4 linked regions of the Homo sapiens genome follow. The protein of the gene in region 2 purifies or fractionates together with the protein of the main gene of each other region. This does not show direct contact. Each region holds a gene or a part of one and is shown on either strand. Other genes may lie near its edges. The genes, in order: SLC25A22, ATP1A3, NDRG3 and FAM162A.

Region 1 (5,307 bases), on a different chromosome or scaffold from region 2:
CGGCTTCAGTCTGGGGTGGTGGGTGAGGGGCTGCGTGAGAGAGGGAGGCTGGGGGAGGATTACTCTTCGGGTGGCCCCACCCTCACTCATTCCCATTCCCTCATCCTTCTAGGACAGAAGTGGCGGTTGCTGACGCCTGGAAATTCCCCTGAAGGTGGAGCACCACCCAACCCCCCTGGGTCCCACCCTCCCTCAAGGCCTCCTCCACCTCCACCTCCACCCCGCCTGGCCTGGCGTCCACCTCTGCGGCTCCTACCTGGGTGCAATCGAGTTAAATGGCTGATAAGCAGATCAGGTCAGACTCCAGTCCTGGCTGCGTGCCTCACCCCCACCCTGACCCATGGTCAAGGAAGCCGGTCCTGACACCCCTGTCCACACAGCCTGCCAGCCAAGCTCATCAATGGCGGCATCGCCGGGCTGATCGGTGTCACCTGCGTGTTTCCCATCGACCTGGCCAAGACCAGGCTGCAGAACCAGCAGAACGGCCAGCGCGTGTACACGAGCATGTGAGTGTGCCGGGCGGTCGCGGGGAGTGGGCCCAGCATGTGGCAGCAGGAGAGGTGGGGGCTCTGCTCCTGTGCCCCCCACCCTGTTTGACAGAAGGGAAACGGGAGGCAGGCGGGCCTAGGGGAGATCCCACGTGGGTCAGGACTGGGGTCGGGGCTGGGCTGAGGACTTGGCCTCTTCTATCAGCCCTAGACAGTCCAGGGACCCTGGCCTCCGGCTGGCCCCAGCTGGCCCTGGCTCACCCTGTCCCCTTGGCCACAGGTCCGACTGCCTCATCAAGACCGTCCGCTCCGAGGGCTACTTCGGCATGTACCGGGGTGAGGTTTGGCTCGGCTGGGCTCGATATGGGCAGGCCTGGGTAGCGCCCGCGAGTCGTGGCAGGGAGCGGTGGGGGAGGCAGGGCAGGGCGGCCAGCCTGGGCCTGGTGTGTGAGCGTGGACGTGTTTGTGGGGGCTGTGCCTGTGCAGGGGGGACTGGATCTCTGGTGAGTGGTAGTTCTCAGCCTCTCCCGTGGCAGCTCCCCACCCCCACTTAGTGCCTGGTGCGTGGGATGCCATGGTACATCTGTCTCTTCTCTGGTGGCCACAGCTGCCTCTGCCTTCTGGGCCAGGCTGGACCCCGTTTGTGGCTGGGGATGGGAGGGAGTAAGGGGCATTACCGCAAAGCAGCTTAGGACACAATCCAGAGCCTAGATTTGGCAGAAGCTCTCCAGCCCTGAGCCTTCGGCACTGAGATGGGGGCTCTCCACAGCCTCCCCCGAGCTCTGGCCCAGTCCAGACCACACACTCCTGTGACCTCTGGCCCCAGCCCCCTGCCAGCACAAGCACCATCTGTCCTCCAGGGAGGGAGAGGTATCCTAGGGAGGCCTCAGGGGCTCCGGGGCAGTCCTCATGCCCTGAGCAGCAAGATGCTGCCCAGAATCAGAGACAGATGGAGCTGCAGTGGGCATGGGAGAGCCTGAGCCTGAGGTGCTGCCCCATCCCTGCCTGGCCCCGCCCCACCTGGCACACACCAGGCCCAAATGTGGGTGAGAGAACAGATGGTGGCCAGGAGTGACTGGGACAGGGTTTTGCCAGCCAGGAGGCAAGTCCTGGCCAAGCGCCTCCCCACTCAGGCCACCGAGCATGTCCCCCCAGCTGACCCCCTGCCCCACAGGAGCTGCTGTGAACTTGACCCTCGTCACCCCCGAGAAGGCCATCAAGCTGGCAGCCAACGACTTCTTCCGACATCAGCTCTCTAAGGACGGGTGAGGGTTCTGCCTGGCAGACACTCGAGGGGTCTTTGGCTTCAGATAAAGGATGGGTCCACCCTGCCAGCTGGGTCCCACCTGGGGGCTCTGCCTGTCTTCAGCCCCTTGCTTGGGGCTTCTTTGACCTCGTGGGGCACCCTCCCTCCTTTCCCCTGACCAGGGGAGCAAAGCAGATGTCAAATCAGTGGGGCTCTGGCTTGGTAGCCCTTGGCCTGAGGGCACTGACCAGCTCCCCCATCACTGGAGGGGGACTGCAAGGGCAGCCCCTTTTTGGGGCACTTGACCCCCAATTTCCCATTTTCCTTTGTCGCAGACAGCCCCACTGCCCTCCCCAGGCCCCTGCCTGTGGGGCCGTCTGTCCATCGGTCTCCTCCCTGCCTGCTGCTGCAGTGGCGGAGGCTGGGGGCTGTACCCCCACAGGCCTGCATCTGCCTCCACGGCTCCCACCATCCTCTGCGCCCAGGCATGGTGGGCAGCCCCGAGGGTGGCAGGTAGACCTGTCTCTTCCCACTTACTGCGGCCCCGCCCCTACCACAGGCAGAAGCTGACCCTGCTTAAAGAGATGCTGGCGGGCTGTGGGGCTGGCACCTGCCAGGTGATCGTGACCACGCCCATGGAGATGCTGAAGATCCAGCTGCAGGATGCAGGGCGCATTGGTGAGGGCGGGGGGAGGGGGAGGAGAGGGCAGAGGTGCGGGAAGAGGTGAGGGCGAGGGGAGGGTGGGGACGCAGGGAGGGCCAGAGCGTGTCCCCTGCCCAGTTCGCACAGAAGAGGAGACAGCAGCCTCTTTGTCCCCAGCCGCCCAGAGGAAGATCCTGGCTGCCCAGGGCCAGCTCTCGGCCCAGGGGGGTGCCCAGCCCTCAGTGGAGGCTCCAGCTGCCCCTCGGCCCACGGCCACCCAGCTGACCCGCGACCTGCTGCGGAGCCGTGGCATTGCCGGTCTCTACAAGGGACTCGGGGCCACGCTGCTCAGGTAGGAGGCACAGGGCAGGTGGGGGGAGGGAAGGGGGAGGCCGGCCTGCCCACCCCACCACCTCCTGTCCCCACGGCCACCTCCCTCCCCACAGGGATGTCCCCTTCTCTGTGGTGTACTTCCCGCTCTTTGCCAACCTGAACCAGCTGGGCCGCCCGGCGTCCGAGGAGAAGTCGCCTTTCTACGTGTCCTTCCTGGCCGGCTGTGTGGCTGGGAGTGCCGCCGCTGTGGCCGTCAACCCCTGTGATGGTCAGTGCATGGGATGGCGCCCGGCTGGGGATGGGGCGGGACTGAGCCCTTGGCCAGGCTCACACTGACCCGAGCGCCCCTTGCAGTGGTGAAGACGCGGCTCCAGTCACTTCAGCGAGGCGTCAACGAGGACACCTACTCTGGGATCCTGGACTGTGCCAGGTGGGGAGGTCCCACGGCGGGTGGGGCCTGGGGGCCTGCGTACCGGGCTGACCCTTTCGTCCTTCCTCCACAGGAAGATCCTGCGGCACGAGGGCCCCTCGGCCTTCCTGAAGGGCGCCTACTGCCGCGCGCTGGTCATCGCGCCCCTTTTCGGCATCGCACAGGTGGTCTACTTCCTGGGCATCGCGGAGTCCCTGCTGGGGCTGCTGCAGGACCCCCAGGCCTGAGCCCAGCACCCGCTCCACCCCAGCCAGCTGGGCAGGGCCGGTGTGGGGCTGGAGCCAGGCAGCTAGCCCAGGACGGAGCAAGGGAAGACCCCTCCCCAGCCCTCCCGTCGGCAGGGGCAGCAGGGGGCAGGGTGCAGGGTCCACATAGGTGGTGCACACGCAAGCCCCCCGGGGTGCTGCCTGCACCGTTGGGATCAATGTCTCATTTATGTAGAAAATGCAGAAATCTTTACATTCCTCAAGCTAGCCCCTGCCCCAATCCTGCCCTGGCCTGAACACCCCCAGGGACAGAGCTGGTCTCTGGGCTGGGGGCCCCCGGGCCTGGGCCGGGCAGGCTGGACCATACCCCCAGTCCACCAGCTCCAGTCTCCACAGCCATCCTGGCCCACACAGGCACCCCACACAAACCTATTTATTGAATCTGCTGGACCCAAGCGGCTCTCCAGCCCTTCCGTCCTTCCCCAGCCGCTCTTGTCGCCTTGGCAGGACTTGACTCTGCCTCCCTGGCCAGCCTTGCAAGAGGACTGGGGTCTCCTGCCCTCTCTGTTGAGCCAGGAATCCCAAGTGAGGGGTTGCCCTGAGGTCTGACTCTTGGGGCAAGCCCGCCACCCACTGTGGGACTTTCTGGTGGGCTCCTCAGCTCCCACCCCAGGCTGGGGCCCAGATTGTGAGGTCTGTGTGCATGTGTGTGTGTATGTGTGTGTGCATGCGTGTGTGTGTTGTGGGGATCTGGCCTGGCCCTTGGGGATGGGGCTGCTGGGGACTGCCCCCCTTCCCGCCGTGGCCAGGCGCTCTGTGTGCTGTGTGTGCCCCAGGCTCTGTTGACCCCGTCCAGGAACTAACTTACCCAGCTTGGTCTCTCCTGAGTCCTCCACCCTGGCCTGGGATTGGCCAGGGAGCAGGGCGGGCATTGGGACCAGTGTGGAGCCTGAGGGTGCCTGCCCTGCTCTGGAGGGAGGGCCAGGAGCTGCCACACCCCCAAGTCCTCTCAGGGCCCACCCTCCTTTTTCAGCCTCTGCATAAGGCCCCTGGGTACACTGCAGAAGCCCCATCCTTCCCGCCTCCGGGCATAAGGCCCCTGACCACACTTCAGAAGCCCCATCCCCCCTGCCACCGGGCGATCCCTGCTGTGAGCCGAAGCTCTCCCTGCCCCGCCCTGGCCATGTGATCGTGTTGGTGACAGACCCTGATGTGCTGGTGCTGTGTCCCCAAAACCGGGGCCCTCCACAGAGGCCCCTTCCCAGCGACACTACCTGGGGCTCAGGCCTGGACCCCCCCAGTTCACGGTTGCTCCTGGGAGCTGCCCCTCCCGTCACATCAGAACCTTGGAAGCTGCTGCTGCTGCTTACAGAATTATATTTTTTTCTTTTGAAGAGTTTTAAGAAGTTGTAACTTTTTGTGTCTTGTCATGTCAGAGAATAAATAAATATTCTAAGTAGATGCTGCTGTCTGTCTGGGGGTCTGTTTGGGGGCGGGGGAGGGCAGTCCCCTCTTCCCATAACTGGCTCCCTTCAGACTGCAGGGCTAGGCCTGCGCACCCACCCACCGACCCCTCACCCACCGACCCGTCACCCACCGACCAAGGGGCACCCTGGCCTAGAGGGGATGCTGAGCGGGACCCGCCTCCTGCCTCTGGCAGTCCCAGATGGGACTTGGACCCCGCAGTTGCTCTCTCGGACCCTAAGTTTCTACCCCTGGATCTAAGGCGGAGCTGGGTTTGCGGATCCCACGGTTCCCGGCGGGGCGGGGCCCGGTCGCCCCTCCCCCTCCCCGCCCTCCTGCGCCGGGAGCAGTGCATTGTGGGAAACTCCCGAGCTCTCCTCCGCGTTCGCAGCCGCCGTCATCCCGCGGAGGAGCGCGCAGCCCCGGGGAGGCCGGAGGACGCGTAAGGCGGGGGGCTCCCGGCGGGCGGGGCGGGCGGGGCGGGCGCGGCGTCCTGC
Region 2 (7,040 bases):
ACTTCTGTGTCTGTCTCTCTTTTTTCCTGTCTGTCTGTCATTGTCTCTCTTTTCTGTTCTGTTTTTCTGACTTCTTCAACTTTCCCATCCTCATACCTATCTCTGACTCTGCCTTCCTTCAGCTTGTCCATTTATCTCCGTTCCTCTGAATCCACTGTGTCTTGGCTGGGCGCAGTGGCTCACGCCTGTAATCCCAGCATTTTGGGAGGCCGAGGTGGGTGGATCACTTGAGGTCAGGAGTTCGAGAGCAGCCTGGCCAACATGGCAAAACCCCATCTGCACTAAAAATTAAAAAAAAATTAGCCAGGCGTGGTGGTGGGCACCTGTAATCCTATCTACTAGGGAGGCTGAGACAGGAAAATCACTTGAACCCAAGAAGCAAAGGTTGCAGTGAGCCGAGATTGCGCCACTGCACTCCAGCTTGGGTGACAGAGCGAGACTCCATCTCAAAAATAAATAAATAAATAATAAATAAATAAATAAATAAATCCACTGCCCCAAAGTCCTTCCTCAGGTCTGCCCGCACGCCCTGCTGCAGTAGCCCCCTTCTCCCCTGCTTCTCCCAGAGGCCTCTTCCCCCAGCCCCTGGTCCTCTGGCTCTCCTGGTTGTGGGGCTGGCCCCTCTGTTTCTCTGTCTTTCAGGGATCACTTTGCCACTCCTCACACACCCTGACCTCAGCCATCGCTCTCTCTGCTCTTCCCAGGGATGCCAAGGCCTGCGTGATCCACGGCACCGACCTCAAGGACTTCACCTCCGAGCAAATCGACGAGATCCTGCAGAATCACACCGAGATCGTCTTCGCCCGCACATCCCCCCAGCAGAAGCTCATCATTGTGGAGGGCTGTCAGAGACAGGTGGGCTGCGCTCCCGCAGAGGAGGGGACGGGGCCTTGACTCCTGGGTCCTCACTGAGGCCGGGGCCTGGTTTCCTGGGTCTGAGGGAGGAGGGGCTGGGGGTCTGGACCCCTGGGTCTGAGAGAGGAGGGTCTGGGGGCCTGGACTCCTGGGTCTGAGGGAGGAGGGGGCTGGGGACCTGGACCCTTGGGTCTGAGGGAGGGGGCCTGGACTTCTGGGTATGAGGGAAGAGGGGATAGGGGCCTGAACTCCTGGGTCTGAGGGAGGAGGGGGTGGGGGCCTGGACCCTTGGGTCTGAGGGAGGAGGGGCTGGGGGCCTGGACCCCTGGGTCTGAGGGAGGAGGGTCTGGGGGCCTGGACTGCTGAGTCTGAGGGAGAAGGAGGCTGGGGGCCTGGACCTCTGGGTCTGAGGGAGGAGGGTCTGGGGGTCTGGACCCCTGGGTCTGAGGGAGGAAGGTCTGGAGGCCTGAACTCCTAGGTCTGAGGGGAAGAGGAGGTTGGGGACCTGAACTTCTAGGTCTGAAGGAGGAGGGGGCTGGGGTCCTGGGCTTCTGGATCTGAGGGAGGGGACTCTGGGGACTGGCCTCTGGGTGTCATCCTTACCCTCTCTCCCTCCAGGGTGCAATTGTGGCTGTGACCGGGGATGGTGTGAACGACTCCCCCGCTCTGAAGAAGGCCGACATTGGGGTGGCCATGGGCATCGCTGGCTCTGACGTCTCCAAGCAGGCAGCTGACATGATCCTGCTGGACGACAACTTTGCCTCCATCGTCACAGGGGTGGAGGAGGGTGAGTTGGCCAGGGGTGGCCCTGGAGACCAGGGTCACTACCGGAGGCCTGAGACCAGCAAGGGGAACTGGCCAGGGCTGCAGGGGGATGTGTGGCAGAGACCACAGGCCCCCTGGCCCTGGAGGAGCCTGAGCCTGTCCTTTTCTGTCTTCCTCCCCTGTGGGGTCGGGAGCTCCCCTGGGCAGGACTGAGCTGACACACTTCAGGGTCCCTGCGTCATCCAGCCCAGGCCCCATCTGGTGGGTGAAGCTGACTTGGAGGCTTTTTAAAGATATTCTCAGCCAGGGGCGGCAGCCACGCCTGTAATCCCAGCACTTTGGAAGGCTGAAGCAGGCAGATCATGAGGTCAGAAGATCGAGACCATCCTGGCTAACATGGTGAAACCCCGTCTCTACTAAAAATACAAAAAATTAGCCGGGCATTGTGGCGGTTGCCTGTAGTCCCAGCTACTCGGGAGGCTGAGGCAGGAGAATTGCTTGAACCCAGGAGGTGGAGGTTGCAGTGAGCTGAGATTGCGCCACAGCACTCCAGCCTGGGGGACAGAGCGAGACTCCGTCTCAAAAAAAAAAAAAAATTCTCAAGCCCAACCAGGGGGAAGCCAGGGACCCTGGGGGATACCCCCTCTGCCAGCCTGGGCTGGGGGTCAAGGGAGCTTCCCAGAGTGGACAGGGATGGCTGAGCCAAGTCAGGGGCCATGCTGTGACGTCCACATAGACTAGTGCCAGGGAGTCGCAGGCAGAGGAACCGGTACACAGGCAAGGCGGTGTGAGGGGCTGGGTCTGAGGCTGGTGCTGCTGAGCCGACAGGCACCACCTCCTGACAGGCCCAGACAAGGCCACAGAAGGGTTGGTTCACATTCAGATTTATTTTGATCATCAAATTAATTCATGATAATCATAGACAAATGCAGAAAAGCATTCAGGAAAAAAGTAGAATCACCCGTAACCTCGCCATCCAGAAATAATCACGGTTCATGCCTTGGTGGATTTTCTTCCAATTTCTCTCTCCTATTTGAAATGTCTCTGGTGTAAAAAGTAGTTCATGGTAAAAGAGAATTCAAACGGCAAAGCCGAGCCCAGAGTAACAGATTAAATGTCCTCAGCCCTTGTCTCCTATATCCCAGAGGAAACCATGGTTAACACCTTCTTATCTCCCAAGAGACATCTTTTTTTGGGGGCTGGGGGCGGGGATAGAGTCTCAATCTGTCACCCAGGATGGAGTGCAGTGGCACAATCACGGCTAACTGCAGCCTCCACCTCCGGGACTTAATCGATCCTCCTGCCTCAGGCCCCTAAGTAGCTGAGACTACAGGTATGCACCATCACACCTGGCTGATTTTTAAGATTTTGTAGAGATGGGGTTTCGCCATGTTGCCCAGACTAGTCTTTCTTTTTTTTTGAGACAGAGTCTTGCTCTGTCACCCAGGCTGGAGTACAGGCATGCAATCTCGGCTTACTGTAGCCTCCACCTCCTGGGTTCAAGCAATTCTCCTGCTTCAGCCTCCCGAGTAGCTAGAATTACAGGTGCATGCCACCACACCAGGCTAATTTTTGTATTTTTAGTAGAGATGGGGTTTCACCATGTTAGCCAGGCTGGTCTTGATCTCCTGACCTGAAGTGATCCCCGCACCTTGGCCTCCCAAAGTGCTGGGATTGCAGGGGTGAGCCACCTCGCCCAGCGAGGTCTTCAACTCCTGGGCTCAAGCAATCCTCCCACCTTGGCCTCCCAATTTGCTGGGATTACAGGCATGAGCCACCACGCCTGGCCTCCCCAAGACATCTATGCATACACAGTACACACACTGTCTCAGATACAGCCGTCTGCTCCTTCCGAATCTTGTGCATCATGCTGGAAGCCTGGGAGGCAGCTGTGAGCAGAGCAGACACCATCCCTGTTCTCACAGGGCTGGAGAGACAGCCTTAAACAAGTTAACAGATATGTAATTACAAATTGTGATATATGCCCCGAAGAAAGCAGGCCGCTGTGATAGATAATAGTGAGGGTCCTGCCCAGATGGGGTGGACAGGGAAGGCCTCTCTGAAGTGAGGGAAGAAATACCTAACTTCCGTCAGGGGCCAGGCACGGGGGCTCACGCCTGTAATCCCAGCACTTTGGGAGACCAAGGCGGGAGGATCGCTTGAGCCCAGGAGTTCAAGACCTGCCTGTACAACAAATTAAGACCTCAAAGATCAAAAAATTTTAAAAATTAGCAGGGCGTGGTGTTGCACACCTGTAGTCTCAGAGACTTGGGGGGCTGAGGCAGGAGGATCACTTGAGCCTGGGTGGTCGAGGCTGCCATGAACCATGATGGTGCCACTGCACTCCAGCCTGGGATAGAGCGAGATCCGAGACCCTGTCTCAAACAAACAAACAAAATAACTTCCAACGGGGGCATTCCAGATATACCCAAAAGTAAAGCAAAGGCACAGTGGGCCCCTGCGCCTCCATCCCACCTGCAGCGGCAGTCAGCGCACGGCACACCTTGTTTCTTCCCCACCACCTGGAACACACACTGGATTATGCTGATGCACATTTGTCACCATTTCATCCATAAATAGTTTAGGATGAGAAACCCCTAGTTTGTGGAGAAGAGCACAATGCAGGGAACGAGAATATCAGGTGGGAGCGGCCCAGGCCCTTATTGCTATGCAAGAGACATCAAAGCAATCAAAGAAGCCACACCACAGGCAGCCTGCTTCACCTTCCCTTCCCTCCCTCCCTCCCTTCCTCCCTCCCTCCGTCCCTGCCTGCCTGCCTTCCTTCCTTCTTTCCTTCCTTCCTTCCTTCCTTCCTTCCTTCCTTCCTTCCTTCCTTCCTTCCTTCCCCTTCCTTCCTTCCTTCCCCCTCCCCTCCCCTCCCCTTTTTTTGATGGAGTCTTGCTCTGTTGCCAGGCTGGAGTGCAGTGGCGTGATGTTGGCTCACTGCAACCTCCACCTCCCAGCTTCAAGCGATTCTTCTGCCTCAGCTTCCCACATAGCTGGAACTACAGGCACACACCACCACTCCCAGCTAATTTTTTGTGTTTTAGTAGAGATGGGGTTTCACCATGTTGGCCAGGATAGTCTCGATCTCCTGACCTCGTGATCCACCCGCCTCAGCCTCCCAAAGTGCTGGGATTACAGGTGTTTGCCACCGTGCCCGCCTGTTCTTTCTTAATGATTGACCTCATTGTTCATGGGCTAATCTTTTTACTTATTTATTTATTTAGAGACAAGGTCTCACTCTGTTGCCCAGGCTGGAGCGCAGTGCTGCAATCATCAGTCACTGCAACCTCGACCTCCTCAAGTGATCCTCCCACCTCAGCCTCCCAAGTAGCTGCGACCACAGGCTCGAGCCACCGTGCCTGACTAATGTTTATTTTATTTTATTTTATTTTTTTGAGATGGAGTCTTGCTCTGTTGCCCAGGCTGGAGTGCAATGGCACAATTGCGGCTCACTGCAACGTCTGCCTCTGAGGTTCAAATGATTCTCCTGCCTCAGCCTCCCAAGTAGCTGGGGTTACAGGTGCCCACCACCACGCCCAGCTAATTTTTGTATTTTTAGTAGAGATGGGGTTTCATCATGTTGGCCAGGCTGGTCTTGAACTCTTGATCTCAGGCAATCCTCCTGCTTCGGTCTCCCAAAGTGTTGGGATTACAGGTGTGAGCCCCAGCGCCTGGCCTGGATTAATCTTTATTTTGTTTACTTTAGACAACCTGTACTGGTTGAATATTTATTGAGATATGGCATGCATACAGTGAGTTGGGCATATTATATCTCATTAAAATATTCAACCAGACAGGGTGTATAAATTTTTACACATGTACACAGCCATGCAACCACCAGACCCCAGTCAAGATAGAAAACCATTCCAGCCCCCCATTTAGGTTTTGTCTGCTCTCTTCCAGTCTATATCCCTCCTCCTAGACATAACCATTATCCTGACTTTTAGCCCAGAGACGGGTGCTGAGCCTGCTCCAGTTGGAGTTGGATGCTAAGAATGCTTTTGTGTCTGGCTCGTGTCACTCAGCACGGGATCCAAGGTCCAGCTGTGGAGTTGTGTCCGTAGCTCGCCCCTTCTTGCTGTGTAGTATTTGACTGCATGGATGTACCGTGGTTTATTCATCCCTCACCTGTTGATGGACATGGGGTTGACTCTGGCTTTTGGCTCTGATGAGTGGTGCTATGGTGAACATTCTCGTACTTGCTTTTCGCTGGGCATAAACAGTCCTCCTCTCTTTTGGGTATAAAACCTAGGAGTCGGATTACTCGGTCGGTGGGGTGGGGGATGTTTGATAGCAACTCCGAAACCATCTTCCAAAGTGGTTATTTCAAGAATGTTTCCACAAAGGCGATGTGGTTGGATGTTTATGTGGAAAGGTAGGTGGGTGAGGGGCCAGGTGTGGAGACTTATGCCTGTAATCCCAGCACTTCGGGAGGCTGAGATGGAATCACAGCCCAGAAATTAGACAAGCCTAGGAAAAGTGGTGAGACTCTGTCTCTACTAAAAATACAAAAATTAGCTGGACGTGGTGGCGCGTGACTGTAGTCTCAGCTACATGGGAGGCTGAGGCAGGAGGATCACTTGAGCCTGGGAGTCGAGGTTGCAGTGAGCCGTGATCATGCCACTGCACTGCAGCCTGGGCAACAGAGTGAGACCCTGTCCCAAAAAGAAAATAATGGTGGGTGGGCTGGGGGGTAGAAAAGGACGCTGGACAGGCCGGGCGCGGTGGCTCACGCCTGTAATCCCAGCACTTCAGGAGGCCGAGGAGGGCAGATCACGAGGTCAGGAGATTGAGACCATGCAGGCTAACACAGTGAAACCCCGTCTCTAATAAAAATACAAAAAAATTAGCCGGGCGTGGTGGCAGGTGCCTGTAGTGCCAGCTACTCGGGAGGCTGAGGCAGGAGAATGGCGTGAACCCGGGAGGCGGAGCCTGCAGTGAGCCGAGATCGCACCACTGCACTCCAGCCTGGGCAACACAGCGAGACTCTGTCTCAAAAAAAAAAAAAAAAAAAAAAAGGACGTTGGATGAGGGCAGAGGAGGGGCAGAGGGAGTGGGGCTCCCTGGCATGGGCGCCTGCTCTGAGCCTGCCTGTGCCACAGGCCGCCTGATCTTCGACAACCTAAAGAAGTCCATTGCCTACACCCTGACCAGCAATATCCCGGAGATCACGCCCTTCCTGCTGTTCATCATGGCCAACATCCCGCTGCCCCTGGGCACCATCACCATCCTCTGCATCGATCTGGGCACTGACATGGTGAGCCCTGGCAGCCACCCTTGGGGCCCAGGAGGGTGGAGTCCTCCCCTCTCCGGCTCACCCGGCCTCCTCCGCCTAGGTCCCTGCCATCTCACTGGCGTACGAGGCTGCCGAAAGCGACATCATGAAGAGACAGCCCAGGAACCCGCGGACGGAC
Region 3 (7,040 bases), on a different chromosome or scaffold from region 2:
AGGCAAAGGCAGTAGGATTGCTTGAGCCCCGGGGTTCAAGACCAGCCTGGATAACATAGGAATACCTTGTCTCTACAAAAAATTGAAAAATTAGCCAGCCAGGCATGGTGGTGTTCACCTGTGGTCGTGTCTGCTTGGGAGGCTGTTGTGGGAGGATCACTTGAGCCCAGGGGATTGAGGCTGCAGTGCCTGGATGACTGAGCAAGACCCTGTCCCCAGAAAGAAAACAAACAAACAAAAAAACCTGTCATTTTTGTGTCCTTCCTCAAAACTCCCAACTACTTAGGCCCAAATTCAGATCTCTCTGAGCTTTCCTGGGAGCATCTCCCCATCCTTAGCTCTCAAACTAGTAATGGAAATTTGACTATCTGTGTAACTGTTTATTCTGAGAGGCTGTCCTGGCAGATAGAGGTGTGGGGTGATTGATTGGCTTTGGCACTCTCAGCTTCCTCCTACATCTGCTTCGCAGGGCAGAGTCATAGGCTCCCTACCTGTTTGTTCCCTGGACGGGTGCTTATTGAGAAGACCTTAGGAGGAGTGAGCACACACTCTGTGGAATGCTAATTCTTCCCCTATCCTTTCACTCATCTCCAGAGCTGCCTTTGGCCAGTGACTGCTGGGAAATAGACAATTGCAGACAAATAATAGCTAATATTTAAATAGTACTCAAACCGTGTTCCAGACCCTGCTTTAAATGCTTTACATTTGTTAACTCATTTACTCCTCACAACCCTATGGGATAAGTTTACTATTATTCCCATTTTATAAGTGAGGAAACTGAGGCCCAGAAAAATTAAGTAACATGGCTAACATTACATAACAAATAAGTGGCAGAGCTAAGATTTGAACCCAGACAGTCTGGTGCCAGAATCTGACTCTAAAATGCAAATTGGCCAGTGGTCAGTTTATATCCAACAAGATTTGTATCCAGTTCCTTTTTTCTATTTTGTGGACAAATGGTTCCACAGCACACCATCCCCTTAAGTGTTCAGGCAGAGGCAGGCTGACTTCCCTGTCAGATGTAGAACAGATCCTGCCTCATATATAAGTGGTCATCTTAGGATCAATTCCATCTCCAATTCTGTAATACTTTTTCTTTCTTTCTTGAGATAGGATAGTGCTTTGTTTCCCAGGCTGGAGTACAGTGGCGTGATCATGGCTTACTGCAGCCTCAACCTCCTGGGCTCAAGTGATCCTCCCATCTCAGCCTCCCTACTAGCTGGGACTACAAGTGTGTGCCAACACGCCTGGCTAATTATTGTTATTTTCTGTAGAGACAGGGTTTTGCCCTGTTGCTCAGGCTGGTCTCGAACTCCTGGGCTTGAGCAATCTGGTTGCCTCAGCCTCTGAAAGTGTTGGGATTACAGGCGTGAGCCAACGCTCCCAGTCGGATGCTTACTACTTTTCTAGGAATTCTGATCTGGGTCTGTTCCTGGGCCTGCTCGAACATCTTAGGATCAGATGGTTCATATTATGAACCAAATTCAAATACAATAAAATAACCATGCCAGACACAGTGGCTCACACCTGTAGTTCTAGCACTTTGTTAGGCTGAGGTAGGAGGATCACCTGAGGCCAGGAATTCAAGACCAGCCCTGGCAACATAGCGAGACTCCATCTCTACAAAAAATTGAAAAATTAGCCAGGCATGGTGGCATGCGCCTGTAGTCCCAGCTACTCAGAAGCCTGAGGCAGGAGGATAGCTTGAGCCCAGGAGTTCAAGGTTACAGTGAGCTATGATTTCACTACTGCACTCCAGCCTGGGTGACAGAGTGAGACCATGTCTCTTAAAAAATTAATAATAATAATAATAATAATAATAAAATTTTAAAAATAACTATGTTATTCTATGCCTAAGTGAAACAAATAAGCATTCATGCTAAGGGTTTGTAACTGTGTGCCCATACCTAGAAAAGCTTTATTTTTGCATTTAGTTGCCTAAATATAGCAGTAGACCAAGACCCCCTTTCTGAGTTGACTCTTACTGCCGGAGGTTTACTGAGCCTGGACTCCAACTGAAGAGATTGTTAGAGGTTTGGAAATACCCTAAGAGAGAACCATGTTACTAGTTCTTTTCATGTGGCACCCTCTGGTCCCAAGGGCTGCTTGTTAGGATATAGAAACCGTGGATTATTTTACTTTCTCCTTAGCATGGCAGTTGTAGAGAGTTACACAATATGCCACAATCATTTTCAGGGTACCACATCACCTCCTTTGAGCCTTTGGTAAAAGGAAATGCTTTTATCTAAGATTTTTTTTTTTTTTTGAGGCGGAGTTTTGCTCTTGTTGCCCAGGCTGGAGTGCAATGGCATGATCTCCGCTCACGGCAGCCTCCGCCTCTCAGGTTCAAGCAATTCTCCTGCCTCAGCCTCCCAAGTTTCTGGGATTACAGGCATGTGCTACCACACCCAGCTAATTTTGTATTTTTAGTAGAGATGAGGTTTCTCCATGTTGGTCAGGCTGGTCTCGAACTCCCAACCTCAGGTGATCTGCCCACCTCGGTGTCCCAAAGTGCTGGGATTATAGGCATGAGCTACTGCGCTCAGCCTTTTATCTAAGACTTCTGGACCTTTCCAGCTGTTCTAGCAACTGGGAATTGTGAGTGCTTTCTAATTCAGGAGATATCCTTCTGGATTGCAGGTATCAGTACCCCACAATGGATGAGCTGGCTGAAATGCTGCCTCCTGTTCTTACCCACCTAAGGTAGGTTCATTCTGCAGTCTTTCATGCAGTTTTTATTGACTTTCTATGGTGAATTATTTAGTGTCTGTTTCAGAGGATATGATGGTTAGGAAAAATATTATCACTGTCCTCCTAGAGCTTAGTGGGGTAACAAGTAAGCAAACAAATAATAAAGTTCTATAAAATAAGTCAGTGGGGGTGTTGTGATAGAGAATAAGGGTGGGATCTACATTAGTAAGGCAAGTTAGGGAATTCCTCTCTAGGAAGGTGGCACACACGCTGAGACCTAGAAGATTTAAAAATCTACCTTGAGCTGGGCCAAGTGGCAGGAAGATCACTTAACAACAGCAGTTCAAGGCTACAGTGAGTTGTGATCCCACCCCTGCACTCCAGCCTGAGTAACAGTGAGACACCCTGTATCTAAAAAATAAAAATAAAGCTGTTTAAATTTTTTTAAAAACGTTCATCTCACTGAGAAGAGAATGGTTTGGAGAAGAATCAGAGAGAGAAAGCAGGGAGAACAGTTAAACTATTAACAATAGTCCAGGCAAGAGATAATGATAGCATGGTACTGGATGCTGCTGTTGGGGGATGATTGAAGTAGATAGTAGTAGGTAGATGGATATATTCTGGAGATAGACTCCACTGACTTGCTGATGGGTTGGATACTGACAGCTACCAAGGATAACTCCCAGGTTTCAGTTATATATATTTTTATATGTGTGTGTGTGTGTGTGTGTGTACATATATGTGTGTGTATATATATATGTATATATACATATATATACATATATTTATTTATTTATTTATTTGTTTTGAGATGGAGTTTCACTCCATCACCCAGGCTAGAGTGTAGTGGTGCGATCGCAGCTCACTGCAGCCTCTGCCTCCTGGGTTCAAACGATTTTCCTGCCTCAGCTTCCCATTTAGCTGGGATTACAGGCACAGGCCACCATGCCTGGCTAATTTTTTTTGTATTTTTAGTAGAGACGGGGTTTCATGATGTTGGCCAGGCTGACCTCGAACTCCTCACCTTCAATGATCCACCTGCCTTGGCCTCTCAAAGTCCTGGGATCATAGGCGTGAGCCACTGCCCCCGGTCTCAGTTATATTTTATTTAACCATTAAAACCAACTTGAAAGTAGTTGGTGGGATCCTTGTTTTTTTTGGTTTTGTTTTTTGTTTTTTTTGAGACAGAGTCTCACTCTGTCACCTAGGCTGGAGTGCAGTGGCGCATTCTCGGCTCACTGCAAGCTCCACCTCCCGGGTTCATGCCATTCTCCTGCCTCAGCCTCCCGAGCAGCTGGGACTACAGGTGCCCGCCACCATGTCTGGTTAATTTTTTTTGTATTTTTAGTAGAGACGGGGTTTCACCGTGTTAGCCAGGATGGTCTCGATCTCCTGACTTCGTGATCCGCTCGCCTCGGCCTCCCAAAGTGCTGGGATTACAGGCGTGAGCCACCGTGCCCAGCCTTTGTTTTTTTTTTTAACAGGCGCACGCCACCATGCCCGGCTAATTTTTTGTATTTTAGTAGAGACGGGGTTTCACCATGTTGGCCAGGATGGTCTTGATCTGCTGACCTCGTGATCCGCCGACCTCGTGATCCGCCTGCCTCGGCCTCCCAAAGTGCTAAGATTACAGGCGTAAGCCACTGCGCCCAGCTGAGATCCTTGTTTTATAAATAAGGAACTGAGGCTCAGAAAGTTAGGGGAAAGAAAAAAAACACTTGCCCAAATTCTCACATCTAATAAATATCAGAGCCAGGATTTCAACCCAGGTTGTATGCTTTCAATTATGCAATGCTGCCTGCAAATGAAGTTGACTCTGTCAGTTGTCGTTATGTCCCATTCACAGCCTGAAAAGCATCATTGGAATTGGAGTTGGAGCTGGAGCTTACATCCTCAGCAGATTTGCAGTAAGTATGTAGAGGATTAGCCTCAACATCCTTGAGGCAGTGCCTGGGTCACAGCTATTACTGCTGTGTTAAATGACCAGGCAGTATTCTGGGCCTTATGTCAGTTTTTCTGTAACTTCTGTCAGCTTTAGATACAGGTTGTATAAAGCCTAGCTTTGTACTTAACAATACCTGAAAAATCACAAATGGGGACAGTACATCATCAATAAAAAGCAAGTCCTAGATGCTGCTTATAATGGAATTTTGTGCGGCCATTAAAATTAAGTTTACGAAAAGCTTTATAATGATACATGGTTTGCATACATTATAATGTTAACCAAAAAGTTAGAATATAGATTGACATAAAGTTTGTCATAGCCATAGGAAAGGACTGGAAGAAAATGTACCAAAAAATATTAATGGATTGATATGTGGTAAGATAATGTGAAATTTTTATTTTCTGCTTTTTATAATTTCTCTGCTTATCAAATTTTCTATCGTGAATATAATCACTGTAGTCAGAGAAAAAAAGTAAGCCAGGGACCAGGCACGGTGGCTCACGCCTGTGATCCTAGCACTTTGGGAGGCCGACACGGGTGGATCACCTGAGGTCAGGAGTTCGAGACCAGCCTGGCCAACATGGTGAAACCCCGTCTCCACTAAAAATACAAAAATTAGCTGGGCGTGGTGGTAGGTGCCTGTAATCCCAGCTACTCAGGAGGCTGAGGCAGGAGAATTGCATGAATCCTAGAGGCCGAGATTGTAGTGAGCCGAGATAGCATCACTGCACCAGCCTGGGCAACAAGAGCGAAACTCTGTCTCAAAAAGAAAATTAAATTAAATTAAATTAAATAAGCTAGAGAGCTAGAGCTCCTATTATAAATTTTTTTTTTTTTTTTTTTTGAGATGAAGTCTTGCTGTGTCGCCCAGGCTGGAGTGCAGTGGTGCAATCTCGGCTCACTGCAACCTCCGCCTCCTGGGTTTAAGTGATTCTCCTGCCTCAGCCTCCTGAGTAGCTGGGATTACAGGCGCCCACTACCACACCCAGCTAATTTTTGCATTTTTAGTAGACATGGGGTTTCGCCATGTTGGTCAGGCTGGTCTCTAACTCCTGACCTCGTGATCCACCCTCCTCAGCCTCCCAAAGTGCGGAGATTACAGGCGTGAGCCACCGTGCCCGGCCAGACATTATTATCATTATTTTTTTTTAATACGTCCTCAGTGATAGGAGAGTCTTCTGAGGATGATACAGACTGTTCAGATGGTTTCAGAAAAAAAAACTTCAGAAGCCTCTGTTGAGAACAAAGATATATGAGCATGGAGCAGCTGCTTGTGCCAAGCGCACTTTCCCAATGAGGAAGATCCACCATGAATTGAACAACTGCATATAGATCTTTGCAAGACAAGATAATTTGATAGTAAAATAAGTAATTTGATAGCAAAACCAGAAACTGGTTTCCATATGCTAAGTCAGATTTCAAGAGCTATTTTTCCACATGTTCTCCCTCTTTGTAGTCTTACTTTCAAATGTGAGGCATTAAGGCATGTAAGTAAGAATTGATCAACCATGTTCCAACTGTTTAGAAGAACTGTGGGAGTGTAGCTTTCATACTATTGTCTTTGCCTCATCTTTCAGCTCAACCATCCAGAGCTTGTGGAAGGCCTTGTGCTCATTAATGTTGACCCTTGCGCTAAAGGCTGGATTGACTGGGCAGCTTCCAAAGTAAGTACCACATGAAGGTGTCCATCGGCTTATCTTGGCCCATCTCAAAACAGCTTACCAGTTTTTCATTGAGGTATATATACAGTTAAGGGTAAAAATGTTAAGTATATAGCTTGAAGAATGTTTACATATAAAATCACCATCCAATCAAGATATAGAATATTCCCAGCTCACTAGGGGATTCCGTTGTATCTTTTCCTAATTGATACTTCCTCTCCTTCCCAGAAATTACCTGTTCTGACTGTTGTTACCAGAGATAAGTTTTATCTGTTTTTAAACAGTTTTATCTGTTAAATTGGAATCATAGAAACTGTATTTTTTTTTTTTTTTTGAGATGGAGTCTCACTCTGTTGCCCAGGCTGGAGTGCAGTGGCATGATCTTGGCTCACTGCAACCTCCACCTCCCGGTTCAAGCAATTCTCTGCCTCAGCCTCCCGAGTGGCTGGGATTACAGGTGCCCACCACCATGCCCGGCTAATTTTTTTGTATTTTTAGGAGAGACCAGGTTTCACCATCTTGACCAGGCTGGTCTTGAACTCCTGACCTTGTGATCCACCCGCCTCGGCCTCCCAAACTGCTGGGATTACAGGCGTGAGCCACCGCACCCAGCCTGTCTGGTTTCTTTTCTTTCATCACGGTGTCTGTGAAACTCATCCAAGTTGTATGTAGCAGTAGTTCTAAATTACAGTTTGGACTGGGCACGGTGGCTCATGCCTGTAATCCCAGCACTTTGGGAGGCA
Region 4 (7,040 bases), on a different chromosome or scaffold from region 2:
CATGAATAGTTTAGCACCATCCTTCTTGGTGCTGTCCTCGTGATAGTGAGTTCTTATGAGATCTGGTCGTTTAAAAGTGTGTGGCACCTCCCTGATCTCTCTTGCTCTTGCTCTGGACATGTGACATGCCAGCTCCCCCTTCGCCTTCCACCATGATTGTAAGTTTCCTAAGGCCTCCCTAGAAACTTGACAAATGCCAGTATCATGTTTCCTGTACAGCCTGAAGAACGATGAACCAATTAAACTGCTTTTCTTTATAAATTACCTAGTCGTAGGTATTTCTTTTTAGCAATGCGAGACTGGCCTAACACACCTTCCATTCGTGCTCGGACAGAGACTAAATGTGAGGTGAGAGCTTAGAGACCTCTCAGGTTTTTCCTGGAAAATGTGTCCAACCTTACACATATTACATTCTAGAAATATGTCAGAGCTTTCCAGATGTCAGGATGGACATCTCATTCCCCAGCTTCTTGTTTGACCCAGCTGTTACCCACTCCATGTTATGTCAAACAAGTGCTGCTGATTATTTTCAACAAATGCACCAGGGAAAACACTGTTTGCAGTGAATAAACTCCAAGTCAGGTGAAAAAAGATAAGCCCTGTGAGTGGGGTTTCCAGCGAACTGTCAGACAAGTCAAATAGTAACAATTCTCTGCAGCTGGAAGTTTTGGAAAACTCTTAAACCCATTCTGCCTTCTTCAGTGCCTGCAAGGCTGCTGGTTTTCAAAGTAACTGTGATTTGTGAGGCTGTTGGTTTTCAAGACTATTGTGAAGCTGAAAGAAGACAGGAATAAAGCAAGTTAAAACTCCACAAAACTTGCTGTCCTACCACGATTTCAGGCTTTTTTTTTTGGATAAATGCTCCTCAGATTGTCACAAATGCCTGGTAATTTTCCAGAGTTCTGGAAAAGTTGCTTCTGCCAACTTCTGGCAGTGTTATCATTGCTTTTGGGTAAAAATGGATTTTCAGAGGTCCTTACTCTTGACACACCAGAAGTTGGAATCTCTATTTGTGGTTACCTGGCACACAGTCTTTTTCATAAAAGGCCTCATTTATTTTGTTTTCTAGGGCTATAAATGCCAGAAAGCTTTGCCTGGATCTGGCAAACACAACATCAGTGCCACCTAGTGGAAAGGAGATAAATTAACTGCTTTTAGCTTGTTTCCTCATTTAAAATGTGGATAATGCAGTGTTTCTTGTACCAAAGTTGATTTGAGGGTTAAATGGAAAAGCAAATATGGGAGCATCTGGTAAGATGCTTGAAACACAGCAGGCTCTCTAACTGTTAAGTTTATTTTTTTTTTGAAATATTATGTAAAACATTAACTTTGATAAAACTTCTAGAACACTTTTCAATTTTACCCCTAATGTGGTCAGGATTTCTGACAAAGTTAATTATGCAGTTATGAGGCCATGGGAAAAGTCTATGAAACTCTTCAATAGATTTTCATAGCACTCAGGATTAAGACACAATTATTAAATCCTGTGATCTTCAAATTTTAGTGTTTTAGTGTTTGGTGTGAATCAGAGGAATGCCTTGTTAAAACACAAATCATGAGGCTGTCTACCTCCAGTTTCTGCATCCACAGTTCTGGAATGGAGGCTGGGAATTCGCATTTCTAACAAGTTCCTAGGTGATGCTGCTATGCTGGTTCTGGACTATACTTTGAGAACCTAGGCTTTTCTCTCCCCTAAGATGTGGTTAAATATACATAACATAAAATTTACCATTTTAATTATTTTAAGTGTACAATTCAGTGGCATTAAGTACATTTACACTGCTGTGCAACTATTACTACTATCCATCTCCAGGACTTTTTCATCTCCCCAGAGAACCACTGGTTTAATGTGACCTACAAGGCCCCATCTCACACAATGCTATCCCATTCCTCCTTTGGCAGGCACTTACAAAAGGAACAAGGTTAACCGGCAGCAAGCTAGAAGGACTCTGCTCTTTAAACAGAAAAAGAATCAATAATTATTTCCTAAGACAGCTGTCCTTTCCCATTCCTCCTAATTATAGAACAAAGGCAGTTTAGGAGAACAGAAGACAAACTGCCTCTCAGCTAGCTCAGTTTGAGAAATAATAAAGCAAAAAATGCTAACATGTATACCTACTATCAGTGACATCGATGTATGTTGGAGTAATTCATTCAACAAAGTACTTCCTATGTGCCAGGCATTGTTTTAGGCAATATATAAAAAAGATAAAAATCTGTGCCAATAGAACTTGCATTCTACTGGGGAGAAAGTTATACATATGTTAGATACTAAGTGCCAGAGAGAAAAAAATAAACAATGGGGACATGAAGTATGTGTTTGGAATGGGCTGTGTATGAAATTTTACATAGAGTAGTTAGGAAGTCCTCTGTGAGAATGTCACTCTTGAAGGGAAGCAAGGGCTAGCTATGCAGCTATCTGGTGGAAGAATATTCCAAACAGAAAGAATTATAAATGCAAAGACCCTAAAAGATTCTAGAGCCCATAAAGAGAAGGCCAGTATGGCCAGAACAGAATGAATAATGGGAAGACAAGTAGAATTTGATGTGAGAGAGGTACTGAGGTAGTTATGGAGGGTAAGGACTTGGAGACATGAGAGGTTCACCTAGATCAGACTGTATCTCCCAACTTTTTCTTACTACAACTTCATATTGTATGCTAATAACTTTTACCTCCCTACAGTATAAATGCTGATTAAAACATACACACATATTATCTTATTATAGATATTAGAATAATAGACTAATGTAAATATATTTTTTTAAAGATGAGGTCTTGCTTTAAAAATATTTTTAAAAATGTTATCACTACATAGTGAAACCCCACCTCTACAAAAAATACAAAAACTAGCTGGGCGCAGTGGCATGTGCCTGTGGTCCCAGCTACTCAGGAGGCTGAGGCAGAAGGGTGGCTTGAGCCCTGGAGGCAGAGGTTGCAGAGAGCTGAGATCATGCCACTGCACTTCAGCCTGGGCGATAATGCCAGACCTTCTCTCAAAAATAAAATAAAATAAAATTTTAAATTTTAAAAAGTTATCGCTAAAAAATGTCTGAAGTATTTGATGTGGTCTTGGTTTTTATTTTGCAATTATAACAACATGAAAGCATAAACAAACTTTAATATCATTACTAAGACCTTCGTTTTCTCTCAAAGAGACAGAATATATTGACCAGACGTCCAAGCCAGAAATTTTCCATCCTCTGGTGGATCACGATTAAAAACATACAAACCAAAAGAAAAACAGCCCTTTAACCCTCTAGCTGGACTTAACAGCTTGTCCCTGGCTGACCAATTCTGTGTCTCCAGGGCCCTAGCAGGAAGTTAAGATGAAGCCTCACAGCTGTCTCTAAGGCTCTGGGTGGCAAACGGCTAATCTTAAGAGTAAAGGTTCTTAACTTTTTTATCTATCGAAATCACCTGGGGGACCCTGTGAAACAGATTACTGGACCCAACTGATACAGTCAGTATGGACAGAACCTGAGAATGTGCACTTCTAACAATTGCCCAGGTAATGGTGAAACTTCTGCTATGGGGGACCCATAATCTGAAAACCAGTGCCTTAGAAATATCATTGCTAGCTGGAGGCTATAGTGGTCAGCCAGGGTGAGGCTGGTTGAAGTACCAGCTTCTCTCCTGGTAGTCCCCTCCTTTCCATAAATATCCTTTCCAACCCCATGATAGACAGTGAGGAAAGGTAGGGATGCTTTTTCTTTCTCAGAATCTTTCAAGGTCCTCTTGGAGAAAACCATAGGTGATGTGACTGGAGATATGACAACTCTCTGGGAATCAGAGAATCAATATTACAACCCACTCCCCAGAGTGTCTATCTGAAACTCTCTAGGCCTTAGCTGTTGACCTGGGCTTTGTGACAGAAACAGACTCCCTATATCCGTTTTCTCATCCTTCCCTGCAGGCTTGAAGAAATACCAGTCTTCCTTTATTCTTAAGTAGTAATCCCTCTGCTGAGGGATGTCGTACCAAACTTATCCTTATTTTCCACTGCCTTTTTCCTGCCAAATGTTATCTCCCCCATCTTTAAAATCAAAACTAAAAAACTTATTTTTTTTTTTAGAGACAAGGTCTCACTTTGTCACCTAGGGTAAAGGGCAGTGGAGAGATCATAGCTCACTGTAACTTTGAACCGGGCTCAAGCGATCCTCCTGTATCATCTTCTGGAGTAGTTGGGACCACAGGCAGATGCCACCATGTCTAGCTAATTAAAAAAATTTGTTTTGTAGAGATCGGGTCTCACTATGTAAAAACCTTTGTACCACCAAGTTGTTACACACCATGTTATGTAAAAAGCTTTTAGTAAAACAAACTTTAAATGATAAAAGTAACACTTGCTCATTACAGAAAATTTGGAAGTTAAAAAAAGATGTGAAGAAAAATAAAAGCACTCATAATCATAGCACTTAGGGATAACAACTTGGTGCATTAATATTTCTTTTCAGACCTTTCCTATACTTACATAAAACATATACATTTTTCATAATCAGATAATACTGTATCTTGCTATGTCACAAATACTTTCCAAGATATTAATACTTTTAATAGCTGTATAAAACCCGACACACAGCTATAATCTGAATGTAGTAATTCCCTACAACTTGATTTCTTTCCAATTTTTCAGTGTTATAAGTAATGTTTCAATGAACAGTTCTCTACATACATCTTTGATGGTATTTCTGATTATTTCCTTAGAATAAAATCCTGGAAGTGAAGGGTAAAAGGGTATGAACCCCTTTAAGTTTCCATCTATCTATCTCATCTATCTATCTATCTATCTATCTATCTATCTATCTATCTATCTATCTATCTATCCATCTATACTACTTTCCAGAAAGGCTGACTACTTCTCCAGTAACTTCTACTAGTAGTTACTGAGAATTCTGTCTTATTACTCTACAATAACACTGAAGGTCCACTATGTTGGACAAAGCATTCACTTGTTCTCAACAGGTACTATTAATAAAATTCTTATTTCCTCTTTTTCATAGCTCAAATGATTGAATAAATGGCATGTATCTACTACTTCACTTCACCACCCACACTTTATTTTGCTACAATGTTTCCTTCTCCAATCATTTTACTAAAATTACTCTACCAACATTAGTGACCTCTTTCTAGTCATATGAATACATTTTTTTTTTTTTTGAGACGGAGTCTTGCTCTGTTGCCCAGGCTGGAGTGCAGTGCTGTGATCTCAGCTCACTGCAAGCTCTGCCTCCCGGCTTCACGCCATTCTCCTGCCTCAGCCTCCTGAGTAGCTGGGACTACAGGCGCCCACCACCACGCCCGGCTAATTTTTTGTGTTTTTAGTAGAGACAGGGTTTCACCGTGTTAGCAAGGATGGTCTCGATCTCCTGACCTCGTGATCCGCCCACCTCGGCCTCCCAAAATGCTGGGATTACAAGCTTGAGCCACCGTGCCCGGTCATGAATACATTTTTTTAGATTCTCATCATTAGCCCTTCTGACTCTACTCTTCCCATTTTTGTGGCCATTTGATTCGACTGATCTCATCTTTCTACAAGGATTCAATGCCTCCTTACATTGTACCACCAAATTCTCTCACTTCATCTCCAACCTCTATGACCAATCTTCTTTAATGTCTTCTTTCCCAGTTCCTATTATTTACACCATGTCACACCTCCAAGGCTTAGTCCTTGCTTCTATTCTGTGCTACTCTCTGGAAGGACTCCTCCATTCTGTTTTAAAAATCAACTCCAGACTAATTGCTCCCATATCTTTATCTCCATAACTTTACTCTTCCTTTGCCCTCAGGTCTTCAACCTCTCACAACCTATAACTCAGTGCCACCTAAACCTACTCAATAATGCACCATCTTCTCTGCCAAACTAACACAAATCTTTGATGGCGTTTCTGATTATTTTTCCAACTTTCTTATTTCTGACAATGAGGCAATACTTCTGTAGTCCTCAACATTAAAAAACTTGTCTTTAAGTCCTTCCTTACTCAGTATCTCCAAACTCATCCTTTCTTCAAGACACTTCCTAAATATATTCGTTATTTCCATCATCACCTCACACATCAGTTACTGTAATATCTTCATAGGTAGCAGCAATTCAACTGGTATGTAGTTGCTGAGTTAATTTTCCAGAAATGTTTCTTGTGTTACTTCTCCTGCTAAAAGGTTTTTTTGGTCCAAATTCATTTGGTTCAAACGTCTCCAAACACTACACTTTACCTCCTATTGCCTCCTGATCAAAATCCCTAAGGTAATCTTTCCTCTCTCATATCCTTTTTCAGACTCATTACCGCCCCTACATGTGCTCACAACTCATTACCGCCCCTACATGTGCTCACATCACTCTCACACCCCTTCATTTCAATGGAGCCTTCAAGAATCTCAGAATTCTTGAAGCCAATGGTATATTATATATGTTTGTTTGTTCATTGCAATAAATCAGCCCTAGGAGTGGGGCAGTCCATTCATTTTAGAGCCTTCACAGTATACACACAGGGCATCCATTGTGTACTCAATAAATACTTGGCAAGACCTGGAAAGGAGCAATAAGTAAAGCCAAATGTGGGGGTAGTTAAAATGCGTACGTTCTCATTTAGGTTTGGTTAGCAAGAACAAACAAAAAGAATAAGGTAGCAGAATGTGGTAGAAATAAAATCAGAATGGGAGCCAGGGGATACTGGCTATGTCCCAGGTCTGTACCTGTGTGGTCCTTGGCAAGCTGATTCCCTTCTTGGCCCTTAAGTTTCCTCATCTGTAAAAATTAGAGGACTAAATTACCTGACTTCTAAGATACCTCTCTACTCTAATGCTCTGAGATGTGGGTTAAACTAAAAGGAAGGCAGCCCATAGTCCATTACATTGGTAACAATGACGGTAACAAATTCATTTTCAAATCTGACCAGTCAACAGAGTTTAGGGGAGCAAAACTTTCTTTCAATAAGAAACATTCTTGTAAGGTCATTCCATTCCTTTGAACTAATAATCATTCTGTGGAAAGATACAATATCCTAAAAGTTATATCTATTTTATTCTTTCAGGAGAAAACAGG

The links.
Region 1: the proteins of ATP1A3 (region 2) and SLC25A22 purify together in Homo sapiens (affinity purification with mass spectrometry; 2 studies listed by BioGRID and IntAct, with this or other methods). This does not show direct contact.
Region 3: the proteins of ATP1A3 (region 2) and NDRG3 purify together in Homo sapiens (co-immunoprecipitation; 2 studies listed by BioGRID and IntAct, with this or other methods). This does not show direct contact.
Region 4: the proteins of ATP1A3 (region 2) and FAM162A purify together in Homo sapiens (co-immunoprecipitation; 2 studies listed by BioGRID and IntAct, with this or other methods). This does not show direct contact.

Annotation. Positions count from the first base shown.
Region 1 is NC_000011.10:789,975-795,281, reverse strand, and holds the end of SLC25A22 (mitochondrial glutamate carrier 1), read left to right. Parts: exon of another isoform or gene 1-18; intron 19-112; 5' UTR 113-275; coding exon 276-295; intron 296-380; coding exon 381-506; intron 507-693; coding exon of another isoform or gene 694-768; coding exon 769-824; exon of another isoform or gene 825-829; intron 830-1,662; coding exon 1,663-1,753; intron 1,754-2,293; coding exon 2,294-2,412; intron 2,413-2,515; coding exon of another isoform or gene 2,516-2,554; coding exon 2,555-2,729; intron 2,730-2,823; coding exon 2,824-2,978; intron 2,979-3,064; coding exon 3,065-3,140; intron 3,141-3,213; coding exon 3,214-3,367; 3' UTR 3,368-4,807; downstream 4,808-5,307. UniProt on the Homo sapiens protein: Mitochondrial glutamate/H(+) symporter. Responsible for the transport of glutamate from the cytosol into the mitochondrial matrix with the concomitant import of a proton. Plays a role in the control of glucose-stimulated insulin secretion.
Region 2 is NC_000019.10:41,970,231-41,977,270, reverse strand, and holds part of ATP1A3 (sodium/potassium-transporting ATPase subunit alpha-3), read left to right. Parts: intron 1-704; coding exon 705-855; intron 856-1,473; coding exon 1,474-1,642; intron 1,643-6,728; coding exon 6,729-6,883; intron 6,884-6,962; coding exon 6,963-7,040. UniProt on the Homo sapiens protein: This is the catalytic component of the active enzyme, which catalyzes the hydrolysis of ATP coupled with the exchange of sodium and potassium ions across the plasma membrane.
Region 3 is NC_000020.11:36,680,076-36,687,115, reverse strand, and holds part of NDRG3 (protein NDRG3), read left to right. Parts: intron 1-2,640; coding exon 2,641-2,703; intron 2,704-4,537; coding exon 4,538-4,598; intron 4,599-6,213; coding exon 6,214-6,300; intron 6,301-7,040.
Region 4 is NC_000003.12:122,387,167-122,394,206, reverse strand, and holds part of FAM162A (protein FAM162A), read right to left. Parts: intron 1-7,040. UniProt on the Homo sapiens protein: Proposed to be involved in regulation of apoptosis; the exact mechanism may differ between cell types/tissues.